Regions from separate parts of the Homo sapiens genome. Here all the other regions are reported to be linked to region 1. Evidence: microRNA targets listed by miRTarBase, many of them from high-throughput screens and not tested one by one. Region 1 holds a microRNA gene; each other region holds the end of a gene's coding sequence.
The links. Region 1 holds the annotated microRNA hsa-miR-106b-5p (UAAAGUGCUGACAGUGCAGAU, at 2,077-2,097, opposite strand). A microRNA usually pairs through its seed, bases 2 to 8, with sites in the 3' UTR of a target mRNA and lowers its output. Matches are read on the target gene's strand: a 7mer-m8 pairs with bases 2 to 8, a 7mer-A1 pairs with bases 2 to 7 and ends in A, and an 8mer does both.

Region 1 (4,868 bases):
TCGAGGCTCATTCTGGCCTTGCTCAGAAGCCCTTCTGATGCTCTTCAGTGAGGGAGGCACTACCATTTGAAGTGACCCCATGTCAGTCACATGGACTGGTCTTTAGCAAAGTCCAAGGCTGCCTGCTTCCACCTAAGTGGTCTCTGTTCTACACTTTAATGTCACCCTCTACATCATCTTACCTAGCCCACCCAACCTTATAAACATGATAATTGACTACTTTCCTGAGCTAAATTAACTTGTTTTTCACATACGCAAAAAAGAAGGGATAGTAAGCAGATTTTTATTAGAAAGAAGTCCAAGCCTTGATCCTGTGGGCACTGTGAATTACCAGGAGGGAGAGTTTCTCAATGACCGTTTACTACATATTTTGGAGAGGCAGCTAGGAAGTGGTCTAAAGGTTGGGATTGCTGTATGTGATCACTTGTGCTGATTTTCATCACCCGCTAACCAGAGCTTTAGAGTGGGAGTTGGGAACTAAGTAATGACCTGTCTGCTAGAAAAGGGGAAAAACCAAGAGACCCTGCATTTCATACTGGCGCCATATCCCCAGAGCCTGACTTGCACACAGGCAGTATAAGACCAAATAAGGGAGTCGGGGGGCTCAAAAAGTGGAGCCCCATCTTAAGTATCTCCAAACAGCAGGGACCGCTTAGTCCTTGCCGCATCCCCAGTGTCTATACTGGGGGCCTGGCAGGGAGATGCACTTTACTCAGGTAATTTACTGAGTGGATGAAATAGCATAAAAACGAACAGGAATCTAAAAAACGCACAAAACCCTGTTTTAATGGAAGTCAGGCCCAGGCTAGAAGATGACAATCTACAAACACTTTTATTAGCAAAAGGAGTAAGTGCAGCATGGGAGAAAGAGGGGCTCCTCCTTCCCCTCAAAGGCATCACTGCCCCTTCCCAAGGGGCAGGCCAGCAGGGAACAAGAGGACCCCAGGGTTGCAAGCAGGCTGGAATCAGACAAAAGTGATCCGTGTCCGGGAAGCATTGACCTGCCAGACATTGAGCTCCTCATATTCATCCAGAGCCGCCTGGAACTGGGCGGGTGTGAAGCCACGAGATACACAGCGCTGCTCTGCCTCAGAGAACCGGACACTTCGGCCCCCTGAGACCAGTTCACGGACGGTGGCAAATATCACATCTGCTGGTCTCTGAGTCCTGAAGGAAATGAGTGGGTGTGTAAGGTCAGGATACAAACAGGAATGCTCGACATCAACAGAGAACAATGGTGGCCAGTGTTAGAATTGAGGCCAACCTCAGACACATGGCCACAGAAGACAAAGTGACACAGCTTTGTCCTTCACTAAACCACTCACCTAGCTGTCTGCCCCTTGTCTCCTAGAAGAGAGTCCTTTGACATCTCCATTAGCCTGATGGCTTCATTCACATCTTCTTTCTCCACCACATCCACCATTCTCAGACGTGCCTAAGGGGAAGGTAGGGGGGAAAGATGGGAACGGGAGGAGGGCAGTGGAACGAGGTCAGGGGACACCCTTGTTCTGGCTTTAAGGCTGGGCAGCCCATGGGTCGCCTACTCACAAAACAGGAGTGGAATCCCCCCTCCCCCCAGCATCCGCAGTGTTGGGCCGGCACTGTCAGACCGAGACAAGTGCAATGCCCAGGGCAGCGTCCAGCAATTGCCCAAGTCTCCGCCTCTCAACACTGGCCAGTCCCGGAGTTCAGCTGTCCTGTGAGGGAGACCAGACCCTTTTGAACGCCACTGGGCTCCCCAGCATGACAGATGGAGCTTGGGGAGCTCAGCCAAGAAGACAATTGGCAGAGAGAACGTGTCCCGGGGGCTCGGGAAGTGCTAGCTCAGCAGTAGGTTGGGTAATCACACTACCTGCACGAACAGCACTTTGGAGCCCCCAGGACTGAGGTCCAAGACGGGAGGACAGAAAGGAAGGTCTGTAGCACAGGATCTAGGACACATGGAGTGAAACAGACCCCAACCACCCTCTCAGTGAAGGTTAAGAAGTGGGGAAAAGGCCTTTCCCTCCACGGACGCTGTGCGTGCCCTGCTGGAGCAGCAAGTACCCACAGTGCGGTAGCACGGAGAGGACCACTATCTGCACTGTCAGCACTTTAGCCCCGGCAGGGCTGGAGCGGGAGGTGGGGAGGCGGCAATGAGAGCACGGTAAGGAGCTACCCCTTTAAGGGTCAAAACAGATGGCCCTCCAGCAATTTGGGCACTTACCAGAGCAGTGGAAAGGCGCAGGATAGCCAGCAGGGTCCGGGCAGAAGTATAGGTGGCATCCTTACTAGCCCAAGCCTCTCGCCTCATCTCCACGTATGCTGCTGTGATGTAGTCAGCCAGAGACTCTGGCACCATGGGCTGCTTCTCGCGGCACATGGCTATGTAACGCCTGTGGGGGAAGGTTCATGGGGAAGCAGAAGAGGGAGATGGGGAAGGGAGTGAATATGAGCCCATGTTGTTTTCTGTACCAGGGCTCCCCATTTAACATGGTCCCCTCCAAGAATTTTAAGTGGAAAACACAAATTAGTGGGTGATTATTTGCTTGGCTTGAATATCACTGATGGATTTCACCAAACGTATAGCCCCCACCAGTATCCTCCAAGTTATTTCCTATTTTTTTCGGGAAAATGGCCTTTGTAAGACAAATCCGTCTGTCATTAAGAGAGGATCCAGACCCCTCCTCTGAGCGCATGACATGGCAAAACATATATTTTATTTAAAGAGAACTGTTTACAGAATATTTAAAAGGGAGTAAAAACCGGAAAGAACACTGGAGGCTCATGGGAAAATAGCGATAGAGATTATCATCCAGAATGCCTGGGAGCAGGTGTTTTAAACTTTAAATTTTGGAGTATTTGCATATGCATGAGATAGCTTGGGGATGGGACTCCAGTCTAAACATGAAATTCACCTGTATTTCATATACAACTGATACACATAACCTGAAGGTAATTTTATTAAAAATATTTTTGTGGGCCAGGAGCAGTGGTTCATGCCTGTAATCCCAGCACTTTGGGAGGCAGAGGTGGGCATCCTGGCCAACATGGTGAAACTGCTCTCTACTAAAATACAAAAAATTAACCAGGCGTGGTGGCGTGCGCCTGTAATCCCAGCTACTCAGGAGGCTGAGGCAGGAGAATCGCTTGAATCTGGGAGGCAGAGGTTGCAGAGAGCTGAGATCACTACACTCCAGCCTGGGTGACAGAGCAAGACTTCGTCTCAAAAAAAATAAATAGTGTAGGAAACAAAATTTCCTGTGTCCCTATGATATGAAGTGTGGAATTTTCCACTTAAAAGCTGATCTGAGGCTCTGGACATGTCTGTAGCGGGAAGTGGTGGTGTGAAAAACACACACCCTAAGACTAATAAGCACTTTTTCAGGAGGCTCGCACGGCCCACGCCAACGTTTGCCCACCCGCACCCAGCTCTCCTACCTCATGAGCTTCATGTCCAGAGGTTCAAACTGGGAGGGGGGCTGCCGGCTGTGCTGGTGCACATAGGTGATGTGCTGGGCCAACCTGGACAGAGGGAAGGTTAGAAGGAACACCCTTTTTAGGGCTACGCACCCATGTCCTCTTAGGTGTCCCTCCTTTGGCTCTGCCACTTCCTCACAGTGTAGGAGGGACAAGCTTTCCCGGGAAATCCTCATCAGCATTTCAGCCCCAACCCACCATTTCCCTGAGAACCATGGACCAGCCCCTGCTGCAAAGGGGAGGCTCTGGGGTTTCCAGGAGCGTGGAATTTGTTTTCTGATTCACCTCTCCTCCTCCCTACACAGATCATTACAGGGGACCTCTCTTTGGGTGTTGAGCTTCATTCACCGTAGGTCATTGTCTCGGTCGGGCCGGTCCTGAATCAGCCAGAGGAGGTCAAACCGGGAGAGCAGTGCAGCAGGTAGCTGTATGTTCTGCTCCAGGCTGCGGCGAGGGTTGTAGCGCCCGTAGGCAGGGTTGGCGGCAGCCAGGATGGAGCAGCGGGCATTGAGTGTGGTGAGAATGCCGGCCTTGGCAATGGAGATGGTCTGCTGCTCCATGACCTCGTGGATGGCTGTGCGGTCGGCCTCAGCCATCTTGTCGAACTCATCAATGCAGCACACACCCTGGTCAGCCAGCACCAGGGCCCCACCCTCTAAGGTCAGTTCTCCACTCACGGAGTCTCTCAGCACAGCTGCCGTAAGCCCCACTCCTGAGGAGCCCCGGCCTGTTGTGTACTGGCCTGGAAGAGAAGAAATAAGGAACCATGAGAGAGAAAGAACAAGAAAGAGAACAAGCAAAAGACAACAAACGGGCCAGGGAGGCGAGGCCTGCGCTGGGATCATTCCACTCCCTCCACCAGGCCTTCTTGAGATGCCCGAGGATCTGTGGGGCACTGGCAATGTCCCCCTTCCCCTCCCACTGGTTCTCTTCAGAACACAACTGTGGCTCACTGAAACCTTGGCTCCTGGGCTCAAGCCATCCTCCGGCCTCAGCCTCCCAAGTAACTGAGACTATAGGCACTCACTACCACACCCAACCAATTTTTAAAACTTTTTAGTAGAGGCCGGGCGCAGTGGCTAACTCCTCTAATCCCAGCACTTTCGGAGGCCGATAACAAGGCGGGCAGATCACGAGGTCAGGAGTTCGAGACCAGCCTGCCCAACACAGTAAACCCTGTCTCTACTAAAAATACAAAAAGTGGCCAAGTGTGGTGGCACGCGCCTGTAGTCCCAGCTACTCGGGAGGCCGAAGCAGGAGAATTGCTTGAACCTGGGAGGCAGAGGTTGCAGTGAGCCAAGACCATGCCATTGCACTCCAGTCTGGGTGACTGAGACTCCGTCTCAAAAAAAACAAAAAACAAAACAATACCCAAACAACAAAAAAAACTTTTTAGGCCGGGTGCGGTG
Region 2 (5,484 bases), not on the chromosome of region 1:
AGTGATCCGCCCTCCTCGGCCTCCCAAAGTGCTGGGATTACAGGCGTGAGCCACTGCATGCAGCGAGATTTTCACTTTTAAGGCTTATAAGTTTTTGCTTCAGGGGACTGGATAGTGAGGACATTTTTAGGGAAGTCGCATTTTCACAAAACTCTCAGTTACTGGTCACAGTATAAAAATACTTTATTTAGGAGAAATACCTAATGTAGATGATGGGTTGATGGGTGCAGCAAACCACCATGGCACGTGTATACCTATGTAACCTGCACGTTCTGCACATGTATCCCAGAACTTAAAGTATAATTAAAAAAAAGAAGAAAAAAAGTAAGATTTAGAATTAACTTGTAGCAGTGCATATCTTTTGAAAGCAGTTAACTGTGGAAAGACTCAGTGCCCTCTTAGTTATGGCAACTTTCCAGTATCATAGCTCATGAAACAAAACATTAGATAGGAACCTTGGTTCTCTCTGCGGTCAGTCAAGATTCTAAAATGTTATTAGGATCTTTTCTGGGCTGCAACTGCCTGATGAGTTGTATACAAGTTCCAACCTATTAAAATTTAGATGATGCCACCCCCACATTCCTTATGCACCAGTTGTTTGGGGTTGATTCCACGTTGTAGATCAAATTGTGTTTCCCAAGTTGTGTTTCCCACTGTAGCATGAAGTTTGTTTTGTGGCTCTGAACGTTTTTTTTTATATTAAACACTAGAAATAAGACTAATTCAAGTTTCGTCTTAATATATTTTTAAAGTAGTAAGCAAAGCTATATCTAAATCTATGCTAATGCAGTAGCCACTAGCCACCTTTGAATTGTTATAAATTATTAAATAAAATTAAAACCTCAGTTTGCTGGAGATTTGAAATACTTAGTAGCCATGTGGCTGCTGCCTACTATATCGGACAGTACAGGGATTCTAGAACATTTTCATTATTGTAGCATTGCTGTGGATCTTTCCAGGGAAATCTCTGCCCTCGTTGATGGAGATTTCACTTGTTAAGATACTTATTGAAAACCATGTATTTGTTTTTTCTGGGAAATGAGAGTAAGAAAAGTTTCTTCAAAACTCGTGACTGAATTTTCCTTGAGTGAGTTTGCTGGATTTTCCTTTGGTGAGAGTTGTGAAATTCTGGGTCACAGTGGCAATAAAACTTCACTTAGATTCTTTGAATGTGATCTAGATGCTGCAGAGTATTAAACATAACTCTAGAAAAACTCAAGGACGAAAATTATAAGCGAATTACAAGTGAGAGGAGAATATAGTCTGAGGTGTTCAAGTTCTTTTGTGTATGTATTTAATTTTGTTCCTATTTTATTTCTAGCTGATTGGAATCTTTCTCGCCTACTGCCTCTCTCGTGCCATAACAAATAACCAGTATGAGATAGTGTAACCCAATGTATCTGTGGGCCTATTCCTCTCTACCTTTAAGGTGCGTTCATTTTGGTCCTCAGCTCTGTTAGTGTTGATATTTATTCTAGCCTGTGTATGTGATGCATGGACTAAGTTTGCCAAGAACGTCTTGTCTAGTAATATATTTAAATCTAGCTGGTGCTATGTAAACCCTGTGTAGGCAGGTTAGGTCTCTATACACAGGGCATGGTCAGAAAGTAATGACTTAGCTACAGCTTATCTATGCATGCTCTCTACAGTTATGCAACAGAAGACTCCCCGTGTGGGTTTATATATTTACATACACATGTCAGCCTAAAGATCATAAGTGGTCCCTTTTTTAACATGTTTTGGCCTGGAGAGAGGAGAAACAAAGAATCCCAAGAATGACCTTATTCGTGAGGTTCCCTGGCAGGTGCACTCTGCTCCTCACCAATATTGACATTTTCCTTAGTCCTTTTCGTAGTTTTCATTTACCACAATCTTAATCAGTTGTTGAGAGTGTGGCTTTCTTGGTAAAAAGATGTTTTTGGTGGGCTTTTGTTAAAACCGTAAACTCATCTGGTCTAATAAGGAACCAGATTTTGGGAAGACATGTGTTTCAATGGCGTTAGTATTTGACTGGTAAAATACTGTGAGAACTGTTGTTGGCTGAATTGATCCCTAGGGCACACTTTGCATTTTACTTGAGCCACTGACTAGGAACACATAGGAAGGTCTTCATTAGCAGGAATAGATTAGAATGTATGTAAGCAAATACAGATGTTGAAATTTGGGTAACAAGTACATTAACTTTTTTTCTTTAATTTTAGGACATTTAGGGTCCCCCCTGTGAATTAGAAAGTTGCTTGGCTGGAGAACTGACAACACTACTTACTGATAGACCAAAAAACTACACCAGTAGGTTGATTCAATCAAGATGTATGTAGACCTAAAACTACACCAATAGGCTGATTCAATCAAGATCCGTGCTCGCAGTGGGCTGATTCAATCAAGATGTATGTTTGCTATGTTCTAAGTCCACCTTCTATCCCATTCATGTTAGATCGTTGAAACCCTGTATCCCTCTGAAACACTGGAAGAGCTAGTAAATTGTAAATGAAGTAATACTGTGTTCCTCTTGACTGTTATTTTTCTTAGTAGGGGGCCTTTGGAAGGCACTGTGAATTTGCTATTTTGATGTAGTGTTACAAGATGGAAAATTGATTCCTCTGACTTTGCTATTGATGTAGTGTGATAGAAAATTCACCCCTCTGAACTGGCTCCTTCCCAGTCAAGGTTATCTGGTTTGATTGTATAATTTGCACCAAGAAGTTAAAATGTTTTATGACTCTCTGTTCTGCTGACAGGCAGAGAGTCACATTGTGTAATTTAATTTCAGTCAGTCAATAGATGGCATCCCTCATCAGGGTTGCCAGATGGTGATAACAGTGTAAGGCCTTGGGTCTAAGGCATCCACGACTGGAAGGGACTACTGATGTTCTGTGATACATCAGGTTTCAGCACACAACTTACATTTCTTTGCCTCCAAATTGAGGCATTTATTATGATGTTCATACTTTCCCTCTTGTTTGAAAGTTTCTAATTATTAAATGGTGTCGGAATTGTTGTATTTTCCTTAGGAATTCAGTGGAACTTATCTTCATTAAATTTAGCTGGTACCAGGTTGATATGACTTGTCAATATTATGGTCAACTTTAAGTCTTAGTTTTCGTTTGTGCCTTTGATTAATAAGTATAACTCTTATACAATAAATACTGCTTTCCTCTAAAAAGATCGTGTTTAAATTAACTTGTAGAAAATCTGCTGGAATGGTTGTTGTTTTCCACTGAGAAAGCTAAGCCCTACATTTCTATTCAGAGTACTGTTTTTAGATGTGAAATATAAGCCTGCGGCCTTAACTCTGTATTAAAAAAAATGTTTTTGTTTAAAAAAAACTGTTCCCATAGGTGCAGCAAACCACCATGGCACATGTATACCTATGTAACAAACCTGCACATTCTGCACATGTATCCCAGAACTTAATGTAAACAAAAAAATCTTAAAGTGCAAATATTAAAAAAAACTGTTCTCTGTGAAAAAAATTATATTCCATGTTATAAAGTAGCATATGACTAGTGTTCTCCTAGAGATCAGACTTTTTTGATTGTATAGTTTGCATTAAAAAGTTGTACAGGGAGGGATGTAACCTGTATCTTCAGGATAATAGGGAAATTAATAAGGAAAATAATAATTACTAAAATTTGAGTTGAAGTCAGGGAATTATTTCTTTGGTTTTGAGTCTCTTTATACATCCATTAGTAGAACCTGTCTAGTCTGATTGCCACAGTCCTTGAATTGATGGTAAGGGGGAGTCAGTTACAGTTAGAAAAAAACCTGGGCAAAAACTACTAGTTAAATGATCATGAATTTTGAGTATGTGTTTTAAAATGCTTGGAGTTATTGCAGAAAAATGATATTCTCCATTAGAACATTTGATGTGTGACTTTTGACATAGGATAAGGTGATAAGAAAATTAAGTTGAAAAATAGTGACTCAAGTACAGCAAATCAGATTTTTGGCTACTGAGATTAAAGAAGCAAATATTTAAAGGATTATCAGCAATTTTCAAATACATATTTTTCACTGCAGTGGTTTTGAAGAATGTTTTAAGGTTATATTTAGAGTTTTTAAAAAAGTTTTCCCTCAGCCAGCCATGGTGGCTCACATCTGTAATCCCAGCACTTTGAGAGGCTGAGGCGGGCGGATCACCTGAGGTCAGGAGTTCTAGACCAGCCTGGCCAACATGGTAAAACACCGTCTCTAATAAAAATGCAAAAATTAGCTGGGTGTGGTGGCAAGCACCTGTAATCCCAGCTACTTGGGAGACTGAGGCAGGAGAATCACTTGAATCCAGGAGTCAGAGGTTGCAGTGAGCCGAGATCACACCACTGCACTCCAGCCTGGGCGATAAGAGTGAACCTGCATCTCAGAAAAAAAAAAAAAGTTTTCCCTCATTATTAAAAAGGAAAAATTATAGAAAATTAAAATATAGAATGTAGAAAGAGGAAAAACACCACACATCACTCGTCAGGTGGATTGGTTTGTTTATTTTTAAGATGGGTTTATTTTGGATAGCCAGTTAGAAAACGCCCTTATAGCTGATGTGTGCTTGTGCATACTGAATTGTATACTTAATTCTGAAAGTAATGAGGAAACATTTCACCTAATGATAACTGGTACAAAGGAAAGTTCACGTGTCTTTAATAGTTTGCTAATTAGACTAGCTGGTTAGAAAGAGGGATCACTAGATTGGAGAGAGAGATCCAGTTTCCACTGGAGGCAGTAGGTCTGCTCATTTCCATGGTGACAATCCTAATGGCAGAGGGAGTGAGTTTCCCTTAGTGGCACAGGCTGGGGGTTTTGAGCTTTTAAGTTTTGTTTTATAGAAATCTGGAGAATTTTACATTTTACTTCACTATATATCTATGTTTAAAATAATTCATTTTTGATGTCCCAAAATTGATGTGGGTTGCCTTATTTCCAGGCACCAGGTTGCTCACTGCAAGGTGACATTTTGAGAAGCAGAAATCTCTAGGTATATCTTAAGTGTGAAAAGCTTGTTAGATTTCCATGGCCTATTCCAGGTGGGTTGTTGGGTTTATGTTGTAAGCATCAAACTTTTGTGGAAATAAATACCTAATACAAGGTATAAATACCATTTCTGGTTTTCCTCAGAGCTCACAAAAGAATCTTTGAGACTTGATGTTTTCAACCTCCTGTCAGAATCCAAGTTGGTGATGCACCCAAACAAACCTGTTAAAATATGAGACACAGAGCCGGGCGCGGTGGCTCACACCTGTAATCCCAGCACTTTGGGAGGCTGAGGCAGGTGGATCACGAGGTCAGGAGATCGAGACCATCCTGGCTAATACGGTGAAACCCCGTCTCTACTAAAAATACAAAAAAATTAGCCAGGTATGGTGGCGGGCGCCTGTAGTCCCAGCTACTCAGGAGGCTGAGGCAGGAGAATGGCGTGAACCCGGGAGGCGGAGTTTGCAGTGAGCCGAGATCGCGCCACTGCACTCCCGCCTGGGTGACAGAGCAAGACTCCGT
Region 3 (5,484 bases), not on the chromosome of region 1:
TGGGCACGGTGGCTCACGCCCGTAATCCCAGCACTTTGGGAGGCCAGGGTGGGCAGATCACCTGAGGTCAGGAGTTCGAGACCAGCTTGGCCGACATGGTGAAACCCCATCTCTACTAAAAATACAAAAATTAGCTGGGTGTGGTGGCACGCACCTGTAATCCCAGCTACTCGGGAGACTGAGGCAGGAGAATTGCTTGAACCCAGGAGTCAGAGGTTGCAGTGAGCCAAGATCACGCCACTGTACTCCAGCCTGGCGACACAGTGAGACTCCCTCTCAAAAAAAAGAAAAGAAAAATTAGCTGGGTGTGGTGGCACACACCTGTAACCCCAGCTACTCGGGAGGCTGAGGCAGGAGAATCACTTGAACCCGGGAGGCAGAGGTTGCAGTGAGCTGAGAGCGTGCCATTGCACTCCAGCCTGGGCGACAAGAGCAAACTCTGTCTCCAAAAAAAAAAAGAAAGAAAAGTTATGTAGAATGCTTATCACAGAGCTGAGCACAGAGTGCACTTCAGCAAATATGAGCTACTGTATGAACAGAGGGTTTCTGTCTGGCCCTTTCAGTTGGTGTTTTTATCCCTCCCTCTCTGCCTCACAATTGTCACTTGAATATCAGTTTTTTACCTCTGTGGGCCAGGCCCTGTGCTGGGCCCTGAAGAGGGAGTACTGAACAAGACTGATAAGATCTGTGCCCTGGTAGTGGCACTACAAACCATGACAGAGATTGGGCATCTTACATGAGGGGGAGTCAGAGGAATAACCCAGGTGCCAGACAGACAGGAGCTCACAGGCAGCTGGTGCCCCGCTGTCAAGGAAAAAGCCTGTTTATCTTCACCTTTACTTTTCAGTATCACAGTTGTCTGTCCATGCTGATGTTTTCCCTGGTGTTGAGGGCATACCATGACTTACCGCATCCTCTAACTTGTTTCTCAAAGGGTGTGAATCTCCAGAAGCTTCTGGAAGCTGGAAACTTTATCTGTCAAGCCCTGAACAGAAAAACTAGCTCCAAAGTGGCTCAGGCTACCTGTAAACTCTGAGCCCCTTGCCCACCTGAAGCCCTGGGGATGATGTGGAAATAGGGGCACACACAGATGATTCATGGATGGGGACATGGAAATGAGAATAGGTTAAATGGTGCAGGTACCTCATAGCCAGCTCTACACAGAGGTCTCTCCTGGCAGAAAGCAGGCGAAGGGCAGGAGGAGCTGCTTGGCAGAAGGACCTCCTGCCCAGACCTGAGGAGTGAGAGGCTTTGAGGGCTGAAGTCTCCCTTTGTTACGGACCCTGGCCCAGGAGTTGAATGCCTGAGGACGTGTGGGAACCCCGTTCCCTACTTAGCATGATCCTTGAGTCTCCTCTCTGGATGGAATCCGCGAGCTGGCCACCTGGCCACCCTCTACACGGCTCCACCCTGCCATGGCCGTGGGGCCCTTGCTCTCTGACTTCTCAGGACACAGGTCATGGAGGTTCTTCCCAAGCTGGCAGAGGCCATTTGTGGAAAGTGGAGAGCTACGTGGTGGCCGTCTGCCAACTCCAGCATCTCTGGAAAATCTCCACGCTGAATGTGATTTTTGAAAACAGCTTATGTAATTAAAGGTTGAATGGCACATCATAATTCCAGCATTCGGTTGTGCAGCTGTGTGTATACATGCGCGTGGGGGAGTAAAATACTTTACCATGTTGCACTCTGAGAGGAAAATGGAGACTATGAACTAGTTTATTAATCTTTGGATTTCCTCCCTGTTTCCCCACCTGAGCCCCAAATCCATAGTGACTGGAAATCAGTGGTTTTGGGCTTACTCAGGAGGCTGCTTGCGGCAGTTGCTGGCCAGAACACCCGACGGGGTTGTTTCTGAGCTTTGCCTCTGTGACTGGGGCTATTGCACAAGCTCCCCTGAGGACACACTTGCTGCTTTGGGCCTCGGTGGCCCGGCCTCTCCCTGGCGCTCCCGGGCCCGGGAGCGCTCACCTGTCGGTTCCCTGGACTCTGCGGGCAGGCGCTGGCTGATTCCCGGCTGCGCGGACACCTGTGCGCTCCTGCATTTAGGGCTCCTTTGCTCTGGTTTCATCACGCAGGATGTCACATTTTGTGCATATTATTCTCTAGCTCTACTACTTTTCATTGTAAACAAACAATCATTTTCTAACCTGCCGTCGTGGAAGGCAGAGTGCAGACCGACCCTTCCCGGCAGGTGGGGGCTGAGAGCCAAGAGCGCTGGAACCGCTAGTGTGGCCTGACAGCTTCCTCCAGCTCCTTGGTTTATTTGCAAACTGGACTTCCAGCACCAGGCCCCCTGCGACCCCCTCCTGCCTTAGTCCCGTGGGATCGGGTAGTTCAAGATTTTGAATTCATGGTTTGGCACACACCGGCAAGTCTGAAAACCTGCGGGTCAGAGTGGGGCGGAGGCGTGGGCCCCCTACCCTCTGCCCCCTGCCCCCTCGGAAGCGCAGCCCTCTTCCAGGGGTTGGGACGAGCTAGCGCGGGGACCCGGGGCACCGGCAAGGACCCACCCGCTACTGGGACCTGGCGCCGGCGGCGCCTCTCGCGGGGTGGCACCGCCCACTTCCGCCTTCCGCGGGCGCGCGCTGCGCAGTCTTCGTCACAGCGCGGAGGCCTTTTGTCCTCCCGCCCTCCCCGTAGTGGCCGTAACCCGAGTGACATGTTTCCTTGGGGGCGTGGAGGGGCGGGGTCGGGGCCGGAGTGGGCCGTCAGCACTTAAAGGGCCCGCGGCTCGGGCGTAGGAGGCGGTGCCTCTGCAGCAAGCGTGGGGCGCGGGAACCCGAGCAGGTTCGGGAGACGGAATGAAGGGCCGGGTGGGCTCGCGAGGGGCCGGGGAGTCCGCGGGGAGCGAGGGAGTTTCCGAGGGGCGGGTCGTGTTCCTGGCAGCGTCCCTCCAGGGCAGGCCCGCCCCCTTTGTCCCAGTTCCCCGCTGCCCGGGCTGGGGCGGCCGGGGTTCATTCATTGCCGGCCTGAGGACTCCTAGCTCGGCCCCGCTCCGCGCTACAGCCCAAAGCCCAGCCTGAGACCCAGCCGCCCTCGTATGCCCACGGCCTAGCTCCCCTTCCCTCCAACAGACAGACTGGGAAAACCGAGTGGGCGACGGCTGAGCAAGGTCACTCCGCTGTCGGGGGCGCAGCCGGCCTCAGACCAGCTTTCGTGCTTCCCAGGGCCTCTCTGCGACCACTTTCGGGGTCCGCGCCAGGCGCGGGGCGGGGGCGGGGGCGGCTTCGGCGCGGCGGGCAGAGTCCAGCGGGCAGCGGTGGGGGAAGGGCGAGCCGCCTGGGGAGAGGGCCGGGCTGCGAGCCTGGCGATCCAGATTCCAGCCCGCTGTCGCCAGCTGTGGGACCGAAGGGCAACTGTTTCACCTCTCTGGCCCTAGTATCTGTATCTGTAAAGTGCCAGTGATAACACCTGTCTCACCGAGATGCTGGGGGAATTCAGGAAAATCATGCAAAAGTGCCTGGTACGGAGCCTGGCACGCAGAGGGCTCTTGGTCAAGTGGGTTGGAGCTGCGTGAGCCCAGAAGGGGATAGAGGCAGCGTGGAGGAAGGCGGCAGCGGGCCCGGTCGCTGGGAATGAAAGGCCTCAGTGTCTGGGGCTTCCTCCCCGTACTACCCGCAGAGTTTGTTCAGGGTGGAGGTGCGCACCTGGCCAAGTCCACGTCTACACGGCCCACCCAGAGTAGCCTAAGTTGGGCGGGATTCCTAACTCTGAGCCAGGAGTGACCGGGCTGGCCCTGGCATGGGCAGAGGCTGAGCGGGGGTTGGGGTGGGGCCCCCTCCAGGACCAACCACGGTGTGGTTGCCCCTGAGCTGGCCTCAGCCTGCCTGGCAAAGGACCTCACCCTTGAGGCCATGTGATCTATTTCCTGCTTCCTCCCAGCTGACCCTTGAGGGAAAGGGGGTGGGGGCCGCCTAGAGCAGGAGGTATTAGTCACTGCGCCCAGGAGCCAGTTTACACCTAGCGAAGGCGGAGGCATTGGACAAGCCTGGGTCTGAGCAGACAGAACCCCTTCCTGCGACCCTGGAGTCCCAATCGTGCTGCCATTTTCCTTCTGCCCAGGACTCTCCAGTCCTCAGTCACCTTGGACAAAGAAGTGTGGATCCTCAGATTCCATCTTTTCCAACTCCAAGGCAAGTGGAACTAGAAAATAAGGTGCCTGTGTGTCAGGTCTCCCCAGCTCTGCTGTGGCGGGCCCTTAAGATCACCTCACTGAACCCTCACGCTGCCTCATGAAGTTTATACAATTATTAGCTCTGTTTTACAGAGATAGAAACTGAGGCCAAGAGGCTAATTAATTTCCAAAGCCTAAGGCCAGAAAGTGATGGTACCCAGACTTGCCCCAGGGCTGACTTCTGAGCCAGTCTGGTACCTAGGGCACACTGCCGCCTCCTTCCAAAGCGAGCTTAGGGGGCAGGATTCCAGTGGGAAGGAAGCTCTGAGCAGGCAGCCTCAGCCACCTCTGAGACTCTGTATCCTGGGCCAGGTGCCATGGCAGAGAAGGTGCTGGTAACAGGTGGGGCTGGCTACATTGGCAGCCACACGGTGCTGGAGCTGCTGGAGGCTGGCTACTTGCCTGTGGTCATCGATAACTTCCATAATGCCTTCCGTGGTGAGCGGGGCAGTGGGGCTGGGGCTACTTGAGGGGATGGCAGAAGCAAAACCCTGGGTTCCACCTCCACCACCGGGCGGGGAATGTGTGTCTGGCTAGTCCCTGGGAACACAGCACCCCATGTCGTGATGATGTGGCCTACATGTACCCTACCAGGAGGGGGCTCCCTGCCTGAGAGCCTGCGGCGGGTCCAGGAGCTGACAGGCCGCTCTGTGGAGTTTGAGGAGATGGACATTTTGGACCAGGGAGCCCTACAGCGTCTCTTCAAAAAGGTGGGTGCAGGCTGGGCACGGTGGCTCACGCCTGTAATTCCAGCACTTTGGAAGGCCGAGGTGAGGAGATCACTTGAGCCCAGGTGTTCAAGACCAGCCTGCTCAACACAGTGAAACCCCATCTCTACAGAAAAATACAAAAATTAGCTGGGCATGGTAGCCCATACCTGTGGTCCCAGCTACTCGGGAGGCTGGCATGGGAGGATGGCTTGAGCCTGGGAGGTGGAGGTTGCGGTGAGCTGAGATGGCACCACTGTACTCCAGCCTGGACAACAGAGCGAGACTGTCAAAAAAAAAAAAAAAGGTGAGTGCAGGCAGGCAGGCTGAGGGCATTGCCAAGGACTAAAACCAGTAGAGCAACCTCTGGCCATGTCACCCCTGCAGTACAGCTTTATGGCGGTCATCCACTTTGCGGGGCTCAAGGCCGTGGGCGAGTCGGTGCAGAAGCCTCTGGATTATTACAGAGTTAACCTGACCGGGACCATCCAGCTTCTGGAGGTGAGAGGCATGGGACAGGGCACAGACACTAGGAGGGTGTCCAGCTGGACCCCAGCCTGGCAGGCAGTGCCAAACACAGAGCCCAAGCTGTATCATCCTGGA
Region 4 (5,484 bases), not on the chromosome of region 1:
ATAAGGAAGTGAAAGAACTTTTGAGCCTGTTAACTCAGAAGATTAGCACTGGAAAGGACCTGGGATCTAGACCGACCTCCTTATTTCCTCATACAATGGAGGCCTACAAACTTGGGATGTTTTACCCAGGTCTACATACATTGTGTCACAGCCATGACTGCACCGTGTGACTCCTGTTCTGGTGTTCTTTCTGGTACACCATTGAAAGGCAATGAGATTATTTCCATGTCTTTAGGAGGAAAAACAGAACAGCATCCTGCCACACCCAGCCTCTTGGTATTCACCATGCACTGTATTTCTTCCTTAAAACAATTGAAGCCCAGACCTTTCTTTTCTGGCCCCCTACTGAAATGGAAAATATGTTCGATTATTGTTAATTTAAAAAAATCAGTGAGGATACAAGTGTTAGACGCTACTAATGAATCAAGGGAAGTCTTCAATAAGATGTAGCCAAAAATAAGCAATAATTGATTCTTAGAAAGGTATAACAGTGTGAAGACGGGTTTGCTCAGAATCACACTTTTAATGTTGTTCAGAGAGATTACGTAGTTAAAAGAGTGTTTATCTCAGGTTACAGAAAAGTAGTTCCTGCAGTGGCTGAGGATCAGCAGGCTGCTTTGGTTCACTCCAGCCTTGCTGCTTTCTAACCATGGTCTTTGGCATGGTGCTTTATCACATGTGCCTCAGTTGCATTATCTAAAAGTCAGCTAATACTACCTACCTCCCAGGAGTATTTTGAGAACAAGTTGAGATTATACTTTTTAAGTACATTTTTAAAATGAGTCTAAATTGAGTCTGTTTTATTTATAATTTGTGGTTATTCACTTAAGTCCTGGACCCATTGCTGAAAGGTTCCAGGACTGTGCTGTTACGGAGAGGCTAGGCATGAGTGAAGATGCAGGGTGCTGGGAACTCCAGAAGCCTCAGACCAGCACCGCACTTCCTGGATTGCTAATTTTACTTGAGTATCTTGGGAAATTTTATTTTTACATCAAAGAAAACGCAACTTTTCTATAGAGTAGAATGAAAAATGAAATTTCAAAGAAGTTTCGTGGAGGTTTGGGTGAGGGAAGTCAGCTTCAGCCGCTGTCTTAAAATCCAGGGGGAGGGGTTTCTTATTGTTAGGGAACTTCAGTGGAGAGCATTTAGGCAGTAGTAGTTTAGAATTTTCTTCTCATAAGTAGGTGAAACAGCTAGCAGTGCTGCATATCAGGAGAGAAGTTGGGAGTCTTTCAGGTATACCCCGTTTCCATGTTTTTGGTAGTAAAAGGGATGCTTTGCAAAGCCCTTGATCAGTTTCCCAGCATTTTGGTTTGGATGACTTTGACAAGTGTTGGGAAGTGGAGGGGTGTTGTGGCTGATGGTGTCTGTTTCCCCCAGGCCCGCCTGAACTGTAAGCACTGTGGGAAGCCGGTGATCGACGTGAGGATCGGGATGCAGTACTTCTCCGAATATAGCAACGTCCAGCAGTGTCCACACTGTGGGAACCTGGACTACCACTTCGTGAAGCCATTTTCCTCCTTCAAAGTTCTCGAAGCTTATTGATGAAAGCTTTGCTTTAGTAATAGCTATTTTATTGATATTATTACTTTATTACATATCTTTTATAGGGAAACATTCTGTGACATTAATTTCCTTTCTAATTTAAAGGAGAGTTACTTTGTTGTATGTGTGCCACTAAAATAGGGGCTGCCCTTGCCCTGTCTTGATTCCCGAGTGTTAATCTGTGGTTTTGACCAGAGCCCAGATGGGTAATCCTGTGCATTTGGGTTGGGGTTCACTCTTACCAAGAATCTTTGATGCAGCTTTAAGATGGTGGGGAGGATGGGGTGAATTTAGGAAAGGAATTTGTGGTTATAAACTAAGAGCTTGATAGGAGTTGGAAGGAAACTCTTACTAAAATGTTAACTTTCTAAAAACCTTCTTTTAGATCTTCCTTGGGCCTTTGGAAAAATATGTGACAAGTGAATGTAAGTCTGTGCCTGGAGAGCTAATAGTGCATTAGTCTATCTCAGCCTAGTGTTCTGCAGCACACATGGGCAGGCAGTTTACTCACACTGACAGGTGACCTGAAAGTGGCACAAGTGCTGTTTCTATCACTATTGTAATTTGCCAGTTCATTTTTCATGCTGAAAGTAATATCCAAATTGTAAGACATATGAAAGATATTAGTGTTGCAAATATGTTTAGGTAAACTGACCTATAACAGAATATGTGAAATGAATTTGGAAATAATGCAAGAAGGCAGAACTCAATCATTTAAATTGTGTCTTTGAAGTTGGTAATATAGCTTTTAAGGAGAACCCATGAATAACCTGATTTGGGCAGTGATGATTTATTACAGGTTGCACTGTTGAAGTGTCATTTGGTGTCAGGTTCTTCTCACAGGTAAATCTTTCAGCCACAGAATCTAACTGGTGAGCTTCAGAACCAATAATTGCCACATTTATTGTCCTCAAAATTGCTTATGGCCATGTATAACCAATTAATTCTGAGTTTCCAAAATCAAAGATTTGACCTTAAGAGGGAAGGGAAAAAAGTGTGAAAGGATGATGAAGAAAATAATTTTACTATTTCTTTTAAAAGTATGTTTTGGAAAATCAATGATTTTAATGCATAGCAGTATGTTTGAAAAATAGACCATTCTAAAAAGCCCATGATACCTTACTGTTGATGAAAAAGGATGATCATATATATAGAACTTGATTAGTCAGAGCATTGGGCATTCCAAAATACAGCCTTTGGTTCAGTAGATTTTAATGCTTTAAATAGACTGACGTCGCATACCCTTATAGAATTGGAATATGATTTCTCAAAAATTAATTTGATAATTTCATGTATGATGTGCATATATGCTAAAAGAATGCAGAAAATCATTTTATGAATAGCCAAATTTGGGGTTGATGTGAACATTTTATGTTACTCATTTGGTTTATACTTTTTTTTTTTTTTTTTTAACTGTGTGGTTTTTCTTTTCAGAAGTATTTAGGCAATATTGCACGTGAGTTTCAGTTCTTTTTTTCTTTTTTTTGAGATGGAGTCTCACTCTTGTCACCCAGGCTGGAGTGCAGTAGTGCGATCTCAGCTCACTGCAACCTCTGCCTCCTGGATTCAAGCGATTCTCCTGTCCCAGCCTCCCAGGTAGCTGGGACTATAGGCACGTGCCACCACACCCGGCTAATTTTTTGTATTTTTAGTAGAGACAGCGTTTCACCATGTTAGCTAGGATGGTCTAGATCTCCTGACCTTGTGATCTGCCTGCCTCGGCCTCCCAAAGTGCTGGGATTACAGGCGTGAGTCACTGTGCCTGGCCAAGTTTCAGTTCTATATGAAGTATTTGATGTTTTGTTTGAAACAATACAGCATTAAAGAACCAATGTTATTCACTAATATCATTCATCTTTCAGTTTGGATGATTTGGTTTGCTGCATCTAGGTTGGTGTTTGATCATCTGAAAAAACATTTCAGTGGGAAGAAATGCATAAAATGCCTATAAGAAGTAGAAAGTCATTGAACTGACAGTGTTTGATGCAACTAAAAGAGGATTGTAAGACATAGCTTTCTGCAAACTTGTCTTTAATGCACAAAGCTGTAGTGGTGAATTAACTATCTCCTTATTGATTCTCTCCTGTACCCAGATGCAAAAAGTGCTAAGTTTCTCTTGTCCTCGTAATACCATTTGGATTTTATTTCTGAATTTAAATAGTAAAATATTTATGATGCTGATCTTTAACCCACCTAAAATTTTATAGTGAAACCTGCTTTATATTGTTGTTCTGAAGCTTACAATTGACCTATACATTGCATTCAGCAAGCTCCTGAATTTAGAACTGCCGTCAGTGTAGTGTATGCTGTGTTCCATGTTGCCTTTTTAGATGGCTTTCTACCCCCTGAACAATAAATAGGATGAGGTTTTACTGTAATTGGGTAAAGTTTACTCTTGGACATTATTTCGATGCTAAAGTAAGGATTCTGTGGATGTTACTTAAAGAGAAAAGCATAAGAGCATGAAGCATATCTGGGAATATCTTTTGCCTTTAAGACGATTCATTCTTGTCTAGAGGGAAAATCTGGCTGATTTGGGAATAAAATATAATCGAATATTCAACACCATGAAGATAAATCTTATTTTGGAAATCTACTGACCTTAATACCCCAAGCTTGCCCTGAATACTTTGATTGGAATTGGAATATATCAAAAAAGGTTAGTATTTTTGTTGTAGTTAGGATACTAAAAGGATATTAGTTACCCAAGAGATCCAATTTGTTTTTCTGATGAATAGTGTTCAGTAAAATGAAGCAGTCTTAAGAGTGACTAATAATTTCAAAGTGATTTTTCGTCTATTCTTAATATTTTTTAATTATTTATTTTTAAGAGTTTTATACCTTGAGCAGATACAATGATCTGCTTTAGTGAGAGGACAATTTCTGATTGATTGTTTTCTCTTCAGGCCATCTCACCTCTTCATTCTCTTGTTACATTTGAAGCAGTTGATATAATGGGTTTATACTTTAAAAGATAGACATGGTGCCATGAAGTTGGGGAGTTGGGTGAATTATCCCATTCTAGTTACAGAGGAGCTTTCCTTAAATGCCCTTTAACTTCTAGGTTTTGTTCAAGAAGTTCATTTTCTGAGTAAAAGGTATTTTCATATATGTTGGGGGAAAATTAACTCATCTAAAAAGAATCTTATTAGGTATTTGAACTCTAAAACTAACAGATAAGACAGATATGTACCTTATTAGAGCACCAGAACTAATTTGCTAAGTCTTTTGTTTAGTCCTGCAAGACTGATGCTTAATACACAGTCTGTTCTCCTGTGTCTAGGTCAGGAACTCCAGTTTGCTTTTCTGTTTTGTGTCCTGGTAGCAGCTGTTGAGTAACTTTCATTGGAGGTTGGGAAGGAAGTGAGGAGAAAGTGTTCTTGTTTAGTGTTTTATTTCCTATAATAGGATGCTGCCTAACCCAGTTCATCTCTATGTCCTGTTCACTGAATATTCCGGGTAATTGAAAGAAAATATAATGGATGGGCTCCATTAAAACCAGCTCAAAAATAAATTCTTGTCAGTAAAGATTTCTTGTCAAGATGTCTTGGATTGCACTTTTGTTGAGGAAAGACAGTGTAAATAGTTAAAGAATGTTGATAAAATTGAAACATTTGGTTGTGGAATTGTGTGTGGTTTTAGAGGGTTTCTGTTTGTGAAATGTATGTATTAAAAATAATAAAATTCCAGAAACTAACATTGTACTCTGTCTTTAGTTTGTCACTTTATTTTTCATTGAGATTTTTGAGCAGTGGGATTGTCTGGTCAGAAAAGATGAAGAGAAAGCTTTCTGAGGTTTTGATCACTATTCAGGTAACCATTTCAAAGTCACTCCTGCAGCTAATAAAAAAAACTGCCAACTTTTTTGCTGCTTGCGTCATGTATCACATGTAAACTCACTTTGCAATAAAAGCTTTCAGTATGACAAAGTTGATTCTA

Region 2: miRTarBase lists TSPAN6 as a target of hsa-miR-106b-5p. Seed matches in the 3' UTR shown: 7mer-m8 at 4,110-4,116.
Region 3: miRTarBase lists HMGCL as a target of hsa-miR-106b-5p. The part of its 3' UTR that is shown has no 7-base or 8-base seed match.
Region 4: miRTarBase lists HECA as a target of hsa-miR-106b-5p. Seed matches in the 3' UTR shown: 7mer-m8 at 5,100-5,106.

Annotation. Positions count from the first base shown.
Region 1 is chr7:100,091,967-100,096,834 of GRCh38, forward strand. MIR106B (microRNA 106b) reads right to left here and starts at 2,108; the gene lies at 2,027-2,108. It overlaps COPS6 (COP9 signalosome subunit 6), which reads left to right. Exons shown (of 10, transcript NM_006833.5): 10 at 1-221. It overlaps MCM7 (minichromosome maintenance complex component 7), which reads right to left. Exons shown (of 15, transcript NM_005916.5): 11 at 3,808-4,201; 12 at 3,421-3,504; 13 at 2,207-2,375; 14 at 1,326-1,435; 15 at 762-1,167. The coding sequence ends at 966. MIR25 (microRNA 25) reads right to left here and starts at 1,677; the gene lies at 1,594-1,677. It also overlaps MIR93. RefSeq lists an enhancer at 3,535-4,035.
Region 2 is chrX:100,626,704-100,632,187 of GRCh38, reverse strand. TSPAN6 (tetraspanin 6) reads left to right here. Exons shown (of 8, transcript NM_003270.4): 7 at 1,322-1,429; 8 at 2,202-5,080. The coding sequence ends at 1,390. Among named protein-coding and RNA genes, the nearest start is that of TSPAN6, 7.4 kb to the left of the region's middle.
Region 3 is chr1:23,798,015-23,803,498 of GRCh38, reverse strand. It overlaps HMGCL (3-hydroxy-3-methylglutaryl-CoA lyase), which reads left to right. Exons shown (of 9, transcript NM_000191.3): 9 at 935-1,614. The coding sequence ends at 1,036. GALE (UDP-galactose-4-epimerase) reads left to right here and starts at 2,745. Exons shown (of 12, transcript NM_001008216.2): 1 at 2,745-2,787; 2 at 4,063-4,133; 3 at 4,487-4,612; 4 at 4,769-4,884; 5 at 5,269-5,382. The coding sequence starts at 4,492. RefSeq lists silencers at 2,335-2,544, 2,705-3,184, 3,235-3,334.
Region 4 is chr6:139,175,561-139,181,044 of GRCh38, forward strand. It overlaps HECA (hdc homolog, cell cycle regulator), which reads left to right. Exons shown (of 4, transcript NM_016217.3): 4 at 1,381-5,242. The coding sequence ends at 1,545. It also overlaps a transcript of TXLNB not described here. Among named protein-coding and RNA genes, the nearest start is that of HECA, 43 kb to the left of the region's middle.